Linked DNA regions of Homo sapiens: region 2 is linked to region 1. A link means that fine-mapping ties the variant in region 1 to the expression of a gene that starts in the linked region. Tissue or cell type: whole blood. Region 1 holds a variant in brackets; the other region holds the start of a gene. All regions are shown on one strand. Distances are between the middles of the regions.

The links. PIP is the estimated chance that this variant, and not a neighbour inherited with it, causes the effect.
Region 2: ORAI3 starts here. The variant in region 1 is fine-mapped to the expression of ORAI3 in whole blood (TOPMed, PIP above 0.99).

The regions. Positions count from the first base shown.
Region 1 is chr16:30,907,806-30,915,664 of GRCh38, reverse strand. It overlaps the pseudogene CTF2P. Among named protein-coding and RNA genes, the nearest start is that of FBXL19-AS1, 12 kb to the left of the region's middle. The variant G/A (reference allele first, on the strand shown) is at 4,032.
Region 2 is chr16:30,946,922-30,953,148 of GRCh38, reverse strand. It overlaps ORAI3 (ORAI calcium release-activated calcium modulator 3), which reads right to left and starts at 4,081. Exons shown (of 2, transcript NM_152288.3): 1 at 3,632-4,081. The coding sequence starts at 3,859. FBXL19 (F-box and leucine rich repeat protein 19) reads right to left here. Exons shown (of 11, transcript NM_001382779.1): 10 at 6,201-6,227; 11 at 4,366-6,097. The coding sequence ends at 5,919. RefSeq lists enhancers at 1-148, 2,208-2,725, 2,726-2,955, 3,244-3,762 and silencers at 3,686-3,735, 3,776-4,035, 4,406-4,655.

The DNA of each region.
Region 1 (7,859 bases):
GTCTTGCTCTGTCGCCCAGGCTGGAGTGCAGTGGCGCAATCTCAGCTCACTGCAACCTCCACCTCCCGGGTTCAAGATGGGGTTTCATCATGTTGGCCAGGCTGGTCTCAAACTCCTACCTTGTGATCTGCCCACCTCAGCCTCCCAAAGTGCTGGGATTACAGGTGTGAGCCACCGTTCCCGGCCTTTTTTTTTTTTTTTAAATACAGGATCTCACTCTGTCACCCAGGCTGGAGTGCAGTGGGGTGATCACAGCTCACTGAAACCTTGACCTCCCAGGCTCAAGTAATCCTCCCATCTCAGCCTCCCGAGTAGCTAGGACTACAGGTGCACACCACCTTGCCTGGCTAATTTTTGTATTTTTTTGTAGAGACAGGAGTCTTGCTATGCTGCCCAGGCTGGTCTTGAACTCCTGACCTCAAGCGATCCCCTCACCTTAGCCTCCCAAAGTGCTAAGACTACAGGTGTGAGACACTGCGCCCAGCACCCTTGCCTCTGTTCTGAATGGGCCCCACTGTGTGGTTTTCTGGACAACACTGGGTCATGCTTGAGCAAAGGTACCAGATCTCTTGGGAGCACATGTGTAGCCGGGGCATGGGGCTGGGCTCCAGGCACAGGCTCATGGGACATTGAGTCTTTGCCATTGGTTGGCGGCATTATATGTTACTGGGGCAACCCTTGACAAGCCCAGGAGAGGCCTCATAGGAGGGGTCAGGGCACTTGGTGGGTGTGCCCTGTGAGTTAGAACCTGTGAGTGGGAATTATTATCCCAGTTTCCAGATAAGGGAGCAAACTGAGGCTCAGAGAGGTTAAGGAACTTGTCCAAGCTAGTGATAAACAAAGGCAGGAGCTGGGCGCAGTGGCTCATGCCTGTAATCCCAGCACTTTGGGAGGCTAAGGCGGGCAGATTGCTTGAGGCCAGGAGTTCAAGACCAGCTTGACCAACATGGCAAAATCCCGTCTCTACTAAAAATACAAAAAATTAGCCGGGCCTGGTGGCACACACCTGTAATCCCAGCTACTTGGGAAGCTGAGGCTCGAGAATTGCTTGAACCTGGGAGGCAGAGGTTGCAGTGAGCCAAGATCACTGCACTCCAGCCTGGGTGACAGAGTGAGACTGTCTCAAAACAAACAAACAAAAAAGATGAACAAAGGCAGGACTTGAACCGAAGCCCACTGCCTCCTAAATTGCTGGGATTCCCAAGAATTCAGCTTCTGGTGTAACCAAAACAGAAGATGAGCTGGCCTGCAGGGTGGGGCACGATGGGGGTAGAGGGGGCAGAGCTGCTGACCTCTGACCTCTACCGAGACAGATGCCTTGGACAACAGAGCTGGGCCTGGGATGCGGCTAATTCCTCCAGATGTGAAGAGCACCTTGAGGGGGCTGGGCGTGGTGGCTCACGCCTGTAATCCCAGTACTTTGGGAGGCCAAGGCAGGAGGATCACTTGAGGTCAGGAGTTTGTGACCAGCCTGGCCAACATGGTGAAACCCCGTCTCTACTAAAAATATAAGAATTAGCCAGGTGTGGTGGCATGTGCCTGTAATCCCAGCTACTTGGGAGGCTGAGGCAGGAGAATCACTTGAACCCAGGAGGTGGAGGTTGCAGTGAGCCGAGATCACACCACTGCACTCTAGCCTGGGTGACAGAGCAAGATTCCATCTCAAAAAAAAAAAAAAAAAAAAAAAAAGACAGGCCCATGGCTCACGCCTGTAATCCCAGCAATTTGGGAGGTCGAGGAGGGTGGATCACGAGGTCAGGAGATCGAGACCATCCTGGCTAACACAATGAAACCCCGTCTCTACTAAAAATACAACAAATTAGCCGGGCGTGGTGGCAGGCACCTGTAGTACCAGCTACTCGGGAGGCTGAGGCAGGAGAATGGTGTGAACCCAGGAGGTGGAGGTTGCAGTGAGCCTAGACCATGCCACTGCACTCCAGCATGGGCAACAGAGCGAGACTCCGTCTCAAAAAACAAAAACAAAAACAAAAGCCACCTGGGGTGGGGGTCAGAGAGAGAGAAAGGGAAGCCCCAGAGAGAGGCGGGTGGTGGTGGGCTCTGGTGGGGTTAGCCTGCCCTCCCAGGTGAGGCCTGCCCCATGTAGGCCGTCCACCTGTGAATAGTACCAGATCGAGTATCTGCCTCACTCTCCCCCTCCTGTACCTCCTCTTCCCCCTGCTCTACTACCATGGCACGGCCCATGCCTCGGTGCACCCACTTAATGGGCCTCCTATAATCCCCTGATATCACCACCTGCCTGGCACAGGCCCTGCCGGCCAGCCCTAGCAGCCCCCAGCCTTGGAGAGCCTGTTTAGGACCCCTCACCTCAGAATCCATCTTTTCCTTCAACCTCCTCCTTCCTTCAGCTCACAGTTCAGATCTGGAACCCCACAGCCAGCCCCAAGCTGGGGACAGGAGTCCAGCATCTGCCCTGACTCTGCTGTGTGACTCCAGGTAAGTAGCCGCCCCTTTCTGGGCCTCAGGCTCCTTATCTAAGTATTCCGAACACCCAGCTCATCACACCAACCTGTCTGGGCTTCTTCTCAGCACCATGTCACTTTAGGAAACCTTGCTGTGTGTTAATTCACATGTTTCGTGCTGGTCTCCCCGACCAGACTGTGTACCCGTGAGGCAGGGACCTTACCTGCCTCATTATTCACCCTGGTGCTGGCACACAGTAGGTGCTGTGTTAATAGCTACTGGGGTCAGGTGCAGTGGCTCACACCTGTAATCCCAACATTTTGAAAGGCCAAGGTGGGAGGATCACTTGAGCCTGGGAGGTGGAGTCTACAGTGAGCTATGATGGTGCCATTGCAGTCCAGCCTAGGGAACAGAGCAAGACCCTGTCTCTCTCTCTTTTTTTTTTTTGTTTTTTTTGAGATGGAGTCTTGCTTTGTCACCCAGGCTGGAGTGCAGTGGCACGATCTCAGCTCACTCCAACCTCCGCCTCCCAGGTTCAAGTGATTCTCCTGCCTCAGCCTCCCTAGTAACTGGGATTACAGGCCTGTGCCACCACACCTGTCTAATATTTTTATATCTTTAGTAGAGACAGGGTTTCACCATGTTGGCCAAGCTGGTCTCAAACTCCTGACCTCAAGTGATCCACCCACTTCAGCCTCCCAAATTTCTGAGATTACAGGTATGAGCCACCACGCCCAGCCGACCCTGTCTCTTTTTTTTTTTTTTTTTTTTTTTTTTTGAGACGGATTCTTGCTCTGTGGCCCAGGCTGGAGTGCGGTGGCGTGATCTCAGCTCACTGCAAGCTCCACCTCCTGGGTTCACACCATTCTCCTGCCTCAGCCTCCTGAGTAGCTGGGACTACAGGTGCCCGCCACCACACCCAGCTAATTTTTTGTATTTTTAGTAGAGACGGGGTTTCACTGTTTTTTAGTCAGGATGGTCTCGATCTCCTGACCTCGTGATCCGCCCGCCTCAGCCTCCCAAAGTGCTGGGATTACAGGCGTGAGACACTGCGCCCAGCCTTTTTTTTTTTCTTTTTTATTGAGACGGAGTTTCGCTCTTGTTGCCCAGGCTCGAGTGCAATGGTGTGATCTCGACTCACTGCAACCTCTGCCTCCCAGGTTCAAGCAATTCTCCTGCCTCAGCCTCCCAAGTAGCTGGGATTACAGGCATGCGCCATCATGCCCGGCTAATTTTGTATTTTTAGTAGAGACGGGGTTTCTCCATGTTGGTCGGGCTGGTCTCAAACTCCCGACCTTAGGTGATCCGCCCGCCTCGGCCTCCCAAAGTGCTGGGATTACAGGCGTGAGCCACTGTGTCCGGCCGGGCCGACCCTGTCTCTTAAAAAAAAAACACCTGTTGGCCGGGCACAGTGGCTCACGTCTGTAATGCCAGCACTTTGGGAGGCTGAGGCGGGCGGATCACAAGGTCAGGAGTTCGAGACCAGCCTGACCAACATGGCGAAACCCTGTCTGTACTAAAAATATAAAAGTTAGCTGGGCGTTGTGGCACTTGCCTGTAATCCCAGCTACTCGGGAGGCTGAGGCAGAAGAATCACTTGAACCTGGGAG[G/A]TGAGGCAGAGGTTGCAGTGAGCCGAGATCGTGCCACTGCACTTCAGCCTGGGCGACGGAGTGAGACTCCGTCGCAAAAATAAAAAATAAAAATAAAAATAAAACACCTCTTGAGTGACTGTGTGGGCCCCTCTGCCTCCAGGTTACCACCTGACCAGGGAAGCTAGGGTGGAGCAGTATTCCAGCCCACTAGGGTGGGAGTCTGACCGATCACTGCCTGACTCAGGGGGTGGCAGGGATGAGAACTTAACATTGGTTCCATGATGGAGAGTTTGGGGGAGTACTGGAGAAAGACCAGAACCCAGCATCTGCCTCTCCGACCCTGCCCCTCTGCTGCAAGGCTTCCCCGAGGGACAGTGTCTTAGGTGTGTGTGTGTAAGTCCAAGTGTGTTGTGCCTGGGCAGAGGGAGGAGATCTCCTAGTGTATCAGAGGCTAAGACGTGGCCAGATCCCATGACCCCTGGTCCCCACCTCTGCGTGCATCTATGGGCATGAGGTGTGTGTCCCACGTCTGCTCTGTGTAGGTGCCTCTGGCTGGGCCCCCAGGGATGCACTATGGGTTCCCCTGTGTGCACGCGTGTGTCTGGGACTGTGTGTGTGATGTGTGTAGGCCTGGCATGATCCCACATATATGTACCCATGTCTACTAAAGTGTCAGCTCCACGAGGGCACGGATTTTTGTCTGTCTTGTTCCATACTCTGTCCCCAGCACTTAAAACAGGGACTGGTGCACAGTCAGGGCCCATAAGTCCTGAATGAATGAGCGCATGAAAGTGTGTGCTCATGCCTGTGTGTGCCCACGTGCCAATGCCTGTGTAGACGTGTGACTGTTCCTGTGCCTAAGGGTGAACCTGGGTGTGGACGATGATGTTGCTCACACACCATCCCTCCTGTCCTTTTTCCAAACTCCTTGGGAGCCCGGGCCCAGCGCCTGGGTCCCTGTGGGGCGGAGCAGGGGGCGGCCTCCTCTGGGAAACTGGATCCCAGGACCTGCAGAACAGCAGGGAGCGGGGCGGCCCCTTTGTCCCTGGATAATCCCCATCACGCCCTCGCCCCCTCCCTCCCAGCCACCAGGGTTTAGGGTCGAGTTTGGGAGCTGGAGGGGCCTGGGGGTCCCATCTGTGTCCCCTTCCCTACCCATTTCCTTCCTCTGGGGCTTCTGCACACGAGGCCTCCCCGTGCGGAACATATGTCCCCCTTCTGGGTCCTCCCACCCGCTCCCTGTCCTGTCTGGTGGCCAGGTCTGTCTCTCATTCTTTGCCAGGGCCCTGCCTGCTCCTGCCCCTCTCCCCAGGATGTGACTCCCTCCCTCCCTCTTGGGCCACCCCAGGGCTCAGCCCCAGGTATAAAGACACCTGAGGGGCAGAAGGACAGGTGTCCTGAAAGACCCAGAGGCTGCAGAGAGGAAGAAGCCGAGGAGAGAGCATGAGCTGTTCACTGGGTGAGTGAGGGGCAGGAGCGCCAGGCCCCAGAGACACAGGACAGGGGGACCCGCAGAGCCCCTCCTCTCTCTGACTCAGGTGTCCAGCTCTCTTTGCACCTGCTGAAAACCTCCAAATCCCCCTACATCAAGGCTTCCTTCATCATTAATTCAACACATATTTATTGAATGCCTATCATGTGCTAGGTACTGTTGGAAGCATCTGGGGAGACAGCAGTGAACAAACAGACAAAAATCCATGGCCTCATGGAAATTTCATTCTGCAGACACATAATATGTGTACTAACAAGAAAATTGTAAAGCTAGTGTGACAGAAAGTGGTGCAGTGATCCAACTGTGGCTTTTTTTGTTGGTTTGTTTGGTTTTTGAAACAGGGTCTTGCTCTGTGGCCCAGGCTGGAGTGCAGTGGCAGAATCTTTGCACATTGCAGCCTTAAACTCCAGGGCTCAGGTGATCCTCCTGCCTCAGCCTCCTGAATAGCTGGGACCACAGGTGTACGACACCAGGTTATGCTAATTCTTTTTTTTTTTTGAGACGGAGTTTTTGCTCTGTTGCCCAGGCTGGTGTGCAGTGGCATGATCTCAGCTCACTGCAACCTCTGCCTCCTGGGTTCAAGTGATTCTCCTGCCTCAGACTCCCGAGTAGCTGGGATTACAGGTGCCCACCACCACGGCTGGCTAATTTTTGTATTGGTAGTAGAGACAGGGTTTCACCATGTTGGCCAGGCTGGTCTCGAACCCCTGACCTCAAGTGATCTACCTGCCTCGGCCTCCCAAAGTGCTGAGATTACAGGCATGAACCACTGCACCTGACATATTTTTTTTTTAACTTTTTCTAGAGATGGGATCTCCTGTGTTGCTCAGGCTGGTCTCGAACTTGGGGCTCAAGCGATCTTCCCAAAATATTGGGATTGCAGGTGTGAACCACTGCAAGCCCGAAGTTTGTGAAATGAAGGAATGAAATGGTCTTCCCTCTCAGGCTTCTCTGAGTTGCTACTGAACTCTGGGAACTCAGGAATGTGGCAAGGGGGATGAAGGAGGCCGCCCTGGGTTTGCCTCTCATCTCTGTTTCTCCTGGGTGGTGACCTTAGGTCATTCTCCTCCTCTCCGAGCCTCACACTGTTGGTAGAAACATAAACTGGACCAGATCTTCTTCTTCTTTTTTTTTTTTTTTTGAGACGAAGTCTCACTCTATTACCCAGGCTGGAGTGCAATGGCGAGAGCTCAGCTCACTGCAACCTCCGCCTCCTGGGTTCAAGCGATTCACCAGCCTCAGCCTCCTGAGTAGCTGGGATTACAGGCACACACTACCATGCCCAGCTAATTTTGCATTTTTAAGTAGAAATGGGGTTTCACCATGTGGGCAAGGCCAGTCTTGAACTCCTGACCTCGTGATCTGCCAGCCTCGGCCTCCCAAAGTGCTGGGATTACAGGCATAAACCACCGTGCCCGGCCTTTTTTTTTTTTTTTTTTTTTTTGAGACAGAGTCTCACTGCGTCACCAAGGCTGGAGTTCAGTGGCTTGATCTTGGCTCACTGCAACCTCCATCTCCCAGGTTCAAGCAATTCTCCTGCCTCAGCCTTCTGAGTAGCTGGGATTACAGGCACCTGCCACCACGCCTGGCTAATTTTTTTGTATTTTTAGTAGAGACAGGGTTTCACCATATTGGCCAGGCTGGTCTCGAACTCCTGACCTTGTGGTCCACCCGCCTTGGCCTCCCAAAGTGCTGGGATTATAGGCATGAGCCACTGCGCCCAGCTTGGACCAGATCTTTGAGAGGACAATTTGGCAGCATCTATTTACATTTAAAATAAGCATGCAGCCAGGTGGAGTGGCTCAAACCTGTAATCCCAGCACTCTGGGAGGCCGAGGCAGGAGGATTGCTTGAGGCCGGGAGTTGGAGACCAGTCTGGGCAACATAGCGAGACCCTGTCTCCACATAAAATTTAAAAAATTAACTGAGTGTGGTGGTGTGGATCTGTAGTCCCAGTTACTTGGGAGGCTGAGGTGGGAGGATCGCCTGCTCCCAGGAATTCGAGGCTGCAGTGAGTTATGATCACACCCCTATATTCCAGCCTGGGTGACAGAGCAAGACGCCATCTCTAAAAGAAGGAAAAAATTCACACTTGTGCTGGCTGCCTTTAAAGCATAGAGCTAGCAGGATTTCCTGTGGGATTGGGTGTGTAGAGTAAGAAAAAAAATGAAGCATCAAAGAGCACACCATGACTTTGGCCTGAACAATTGGAAGAATTGAAATGCCTTTACCTGAGACAGGGGAGCCTAGGAGAGGAGGGGCTTGGGGGGAATATTCCAGAATTAAACCCTGGATATTTTGGGTTTGAGATGCTTACTAATATTCAATTGAAAATGTCAAGTAGCTGAATCAAT
Region 2 (6,227 bases), 38 kb before region 1:
AACCTCAACTGTAGAGATTTTTTCCGCCTATCGGGATACATCACTGATACATATCCCTAGGACCTAGAACTGTGCCTGGCAGAAACCAGAGACATTCAGTCTCTGTTGAGTAAACGAATGGACAGCTTTGCAAAGGCTCTGTTCTGTTCTGGTTTCCCCACCTCCCTATCAAGAGGGCTGGATGGCCGGGCGCGGCGGTTCATGCCTATAATCCCAGCACTTTGGGAGGCCAAAGTGTGTGGATCACCTGAGGTCAGGAGTTTGAGACCAACCTGGCCAACATGGCGAAACCCCGTCTCTACTAAAAGTACAAAAATTAGCCGGGCATCGTGGCACATGCCTGTAATCCCTGCTACTTGAGAGGCTGAGGCAGGAGAACTGCTTGAACCCAGGAGGCAGAAGTTTGAGTGAGCCGAGATCATGTGACTGCACTCCAGCCTGGGCAACAGAGCAAGACTCTGTCTCAAAAAAAAATTAAAAATAAAAATAAAAAAAAGGGCTGGATGACATGCTTCTAACAGGTTTACTGCATAGGGATCAAACAGCAGATTCTGGAGCTGGGCTGCCTGGGATCATTCTCTGCTCTAGCTGTGTAATCTTGAGCAAGTCAGTTCTCTGTGTGCCTCAATTTCCTATCTGGAAATAGAGATTGATAACAGCACCTCCCTGCCTTATAGGGTTGGTATAAACATTAAATGAAATATACATGAAATGGGCTGGGAGTGGTGGCTCACGCCTTTCATCCCAACACTTTGGGAGGCCGAGTTGGGCGGATCACCTGAGGTCAGGAGTTCAAGACCAGCCTGGCCAACATGGTGAAACCCTGTCTCTACTAAAAATATAAAAATTAGCCGGGCGTGGTGGTGTGCGCCTGTAATCCCGGCTACTCAGGAGCTTGGGAGGCTAAGGCAGGAGAATTGCTTGAACCCAGGAGGCAGAGGTTGCAGTGAGCCGAGATCGCACCACTGCACTCCAGCCTGGGTGACAGTGTGGGACTCTGTCTCAAAAAAAAAAAAAAAAGAAAGATAAGAAAGAAAAGAAAGAAAGAAAAAGAAAGAGGAAAGGAAAGGAAAAGGAAAAGGAAGAAAAAGAAAAAGAACAGTGCCAGGCACAGAGTAAGCACTAGGTATGTGTTTGCTGTTCTTGCTATAGTGAATGCTAAAGTCTGAGGACAGAGTTTACAAATCGGCACACTGTGGACCACTGCCAGCTTGCAGACGTGTTTTGCTTGGCTCACACAGTGTGTTTCTTAAAAAATGGAAGATGCTGCCAACTTGTAAAACTGAAGAGATTTCTTATATCCCTATTTCCAGATCCCCTTGAAAACTTGGAAGAACTAGCCACACTTGGCCTGCGTTCCTGCATGGCAACTATCAGCTCAAATCAGTCATGGCTGCTCCCCTTGGAAAGGTCATGGGGTCTCTCTTTTTTTTTTTTTGGTAGATGCCAGGTCTTGCTATGTTGCCCAGGCTGGCTGGACTCGAACTCCTGGGCTCCTAGGCTCAAGCGATCCTCCTGCCTTGGCCTCCCAAAGTGCTGGGATGAAAGGTGTGAGCCATCACCCCCAATGTCATGGGGTCTCTTGCTTGCTAGTCCCTACCCAGCCAATTTGGCATCCATATTACCTGCCTGGCCCTTTGCAAACATTTGAGTTGATGACCCTATTCTAGGAATTTATAAATTTGGAGTCTGGAACCAGACGGCTTAGGCTCAAATCCTGCCACTTACTTGCTGTGGGACCTTGGGCAGGTGTCTTAACATCTCTGATCCTCAGTTTCCTCATCTGTAAAATGGCCAGAGTAGCAGTACCCACTTTGTAGGCTAACAGATGATGTATATAAAGGCACTGAGGGCAGTGCCTGGTGCTTAGTGACAGCTGGATACAATTTGTATAATGCTATTCTAACTTAGGCCACCTGAGTTTCAGAAGCCCACTCTCTCCCCATCCCTGGTTCTTGTAGGGTCCATTCGATTGCTCTGGGCCTGGGGAAAGAAGAAGGTAGGTGTAGAGGCTGGCGGGTGGAGGTAGGAAAACAGGGCTGAGTATTTTGGGAAATTGGGCCATGGCAGGTGTCAGGAGGTGTTTTCCACAGACAGGGATCTGGGCCAGGCTTAGTCCTGGTTTCTCCCAGAGCCTGGCCCAGCCTCGGTCACCCCTGCTAGGACTGCGGCCAGTCCTGCCCCCGGAACCTAAACCTCCAGCCCCTTCCTCCTGCAGAGAAGGCTCGGGCCCTTAAGCTGTCACCCCAGCAACCTGCACCTGCATATTCTGCCGTGGAGGGATTGTCTCCTTGGGAACAGGCTGGACCATGGGGTTGACCTCCCTCAGCTTGGGTGGCTGCTCCCTTCCCTCTGCAGGCTGTGCAGATGAAGGGGAGCCAACATCCTGTCCCTAGGTGATGCCCCCATCATGAAAGGTAAGCTGGTCTGTGGATTCTGGGACCCCACATAGAAGACCATAGGCTTATGATGACCCTTAGGGTTAGAGAGTTTCCCTGTCATTGTTCAAATATGGAGGTTGTGGCACAGACAGGGCAGGGACTAGCCCAGATCCCCTAGCGCCATGGTCCCCACCCCAACCGCCTCTGATATCCACCCCCACAGGAGTGCGTTCCCCAAAGTACCTCCTGCAGCTCACTTTCTCCTTTTTCCTGGGGTGATGGTGGGGCAACCCCAGACTAACAGAGCAGCAACCCTGGGTCCCAGTTCATTCGCTCCTGCCCAGAGGCAAGGCTTTTACTTTCCACACCTGTCCAATTAGCAGGCTAGTCTGAGCCATCCTTGGTACGTGACCTGCTCTGACATGCCTGGCTCACCCTGGGGCGGTTACTTGGCTGGCTACAGAGGGCGCACCCTCCATGATCTCAGTTTCCCACTGGCTTGCAAGCGGGGTGGAGGCCTGTCCAGGGTCACACAGCTGGCCACAAGCAGGGAGGAGCCAGGACTGTGTCTGCTGATCCTCACCCTGGGACCTCCCTCCATCCCACTTCCTGTGAGGCCACTGCTGGGGCAGACCGTTAGCCAACACCGTCCTCCTGCACCTGGGGTTTATCAGCTTGAGACTCGCTTATCAGTTTCCTCATCAGCCTCCTTCCCCAGCGGTTCCCTCCCGGGCATGATCTCTTGTCAGTTTTCCTGGTTGACACTAGCACCCCTTGGGCCCGCTGGAGAGTGGCCACCTTCCCTGGGACGGGCCCACCTTCAGCTGGGTGACCCTTCCACCCAGCTAATCCATCTCGAGCCCCCCACCTGTTGATGCAGCCCCCACCCAGCTGACCTGCCTTTGAAGCTGGCACTGGGACTTAGGAACCACTTCTGCCAGGTACAGGCTCCATCTGGACCACTCTGCCTCACTGTTGCAGTCAACCCCACCAGCGATTTGTTCACCCCACTCCCACTACGACACCTTTAGGACTTTCGTGTCCTCCGGTGGCCCCGTCTCCTGGGGTCCCCTGTACACACACATCCGTAAGAAGGGACTTGCTCAGTCCCGCGGGACCTTGTTCCTTCCCCCTTTGACGAAAGCCCCCTTTAACCTGTCTCCCTTGGGACCTGTTTACTTCGCCCCCCCCCCGACCTGTGCCCCCCACTTGCTCTGCCCCACCGGGTGTGACCCCTCCCGGCCCCTCACCATGGCGAAGCCCGAGAGCAAGGCAGACGTGCGGCTGGAAGCTTTGAGCTTGGCCCGGCTGAGGTAGAGGCGGCGCCAGCTGAGCGCCCGCAGCGAGTGCTGACTGGCCCCCATGAGGTCCAGGTAGCCGCGGTGCACGAACTCCCGGTACGTGGCCGAGCCTGCAGGGCTCTCGCCCTCAGGGTTCAGCGGGGCCTGCTCGCCCGCGTCCCCCTCGCCGCCCTTCATCCTGGGGGGGGGGCGGCACCAGGCGGTCACTACGGGGCGGAAGCGCCTCGGGGGCCCCAGCCGGGCCGGCCCAAGCCCGGGGGCGGCCCCATTCCCAGACAGGACGAGCAGGATGCAGGCGGCGGGCGCCCAGGAAGAGGCACCCCCAGTGGAGCAAGAAAAGCAGCGTCTGCGGGGAGCCCCAGGAGCCGGAGCGGGACAGCGGAGGCCAAAACAGGAACTGGGACAGAGGCGGAGCCGGGGCTAGCCACATGATGGGGTGGAGCCGGGGACCAAGTCCCCGCAGTCCCGGGCCCGCAGAGATTCCCCGCGACCCCTACCCACCAAGAACGTTATCCAAGCGCCCGGACCCCACCGAGGTGCACGCCAACCCCAGCCCCCTCCAAGGTACAGCTGGACACCCCAGGTGTCCACACTTCCAAATCCCTCCCAAAATGAGTCCAGGAGAGGTGAGCCCACTCATCTGTAGGTAGGGACCCCGCAGATACACACACGAACTCCGCAGCCCCGGCTGGAAGATTTTGAGTTTTATAGCAAACCGTATTGTACAGACCCGGGGCCCAGGGGCCCAGCCCGGCTGGGTCCCCCGCTTGCCCCTCGCCGGGCTGCCTCTTCCCTCCCCCAAGCGGCCCCATTCTCAAGCCTCTCGCTATCCCCAGGCCCCACCCCTCCGGCCTTTGGTCCGCCCAGCCCTCCCCCCACCCGCGCACCTCCCTGTTACCTGAGGTATGTGGATAGATCTCCCCTCCCCTACATGGTAAGCCCCGGCCCCCCGGAGGCCTGCGCGGAGGGGCGGGACCTGGCCCGGCTCATCCCCGGGGTCCCGAAGCCCCACCCCGCGCTCGAGGAAGGGGCAGGGAAGGAGGGCCAGCAGAGTCTGTTACTAGGTTCCCATGGCAACTAAGAGGGGGCCATTTCCAGCCTTAGCACTGGCATCGGGAGGTGTCCGTTGGCTGCTATTTCCATGGCAACCAGGAGTGGCAGTTCCCTGGGCAAATGGGATACAAGTTTCCATGACGATGAAAGAGTGGGAAGAGCCAGGCTGGAGGAGTCCCATGGTCCCCATTCTTGGGCTGGCGCCCCCAGCCATAATGCGGGTCCGGCGGGTGCCGCCGCTCAATACAGTAAAACAAGAACAAGCCTGGGGGTGGCGCAGTCCCAAATGGGCGCCCACCGGCCCGGTCTCAGGTCTCAGTCCAAGCTGGTCCAGTCCCCTCACACCCCGGCTCCCCCAGGTCCGAGATTCCCCCGGTTCAAGTAACACTTCAGTACAGATGAATGTTCAAGTATTGTGCGGAGAGGCGGGCAGGGGGTTGGGGCGCCCCTCGCCACTCCCCTGGGCCGCGAGCTGAAGAGCGGCTGCCCGCGGCCCCCACTCCTTGCAATAGCTGCCGTTTTCAGTGACGTTCAAGGAGTCAGGGTCAGGGGGAAGGAACTGAAGCCTGGGGAGGGGGGAAGCAGAGAGGTGACCCCCAAGGGGGTATTGCTGTCCCCACACCTGCTCTCATCCCCACCTCCAGCTCAGCCCCAGCTTGCCCCTGGTTCCCCTACCTCTGACACCTGGATCCCCAATTGCTCCTCCGGTTTTCCTTTTGTGGCCCCACCCCCACCCCCCACTCCAAGTAACTGGTCTTTGTTCCCTGAACCCTTGGTGGTCTGCTGTCTGCCCCGCCCCCCGCCCCTTCCACCTCCCCCAGCCCCTGGCTCCCATATCCTGTGTGTGTCCTTTCCCCATTCTCCCCCCCAACACTTGCACCATAACCCCCCTCCCACCGTCCCTTCGGCTCAGCACCCTCCAGTACCTCTGACCCACTCCCCCAGGGGATGGACAATGAAGCAGGTAGCAGGGGCAGGACATAGGAAGGAGAAACCCCCAGAGATATCAGTGCAGGGGGGAAAGAAGGGGGTGGCTGGCTTGAGTCCCTGGGTGGGAATCCCAAGTCACTGACACTCAGGAATCCCAGGGTGGTGAGGTGGGAACCTGGCCTCCCAGCAGGGGTGAAATGAAGCCGGAGGTCCAGGCTCCTGTCGAGTCCGGGGGAGGGTGGGGGGCGCCCAACTAGCTGTCCTTGAGAAGCAGCTTCTCCTCAGGGCAGCGGAAGGGGCCAGGGGGCCCGGCAGCTGCCAGCCGGGCACAAGCTTCGGGTGAGAGCTGGCGGCAGGAGCGCAGGTCTAGGCGGCGTAGACGAGGGCAGCGGCGGAACAGCGGGAGGCAGTGGTCCGTTAGGCGGTGGCAACCTGGGGATGGGGCAGTGGAGCTGAGACCAGGCAGGTGAGCAAGGGGTTGGCACTGGCCGTGGGGATCCACAGGCTGGCAGGACGGATGGGGGACCGTGCTTACCAGCAAGATTGAGGTGCACCAGGGTCT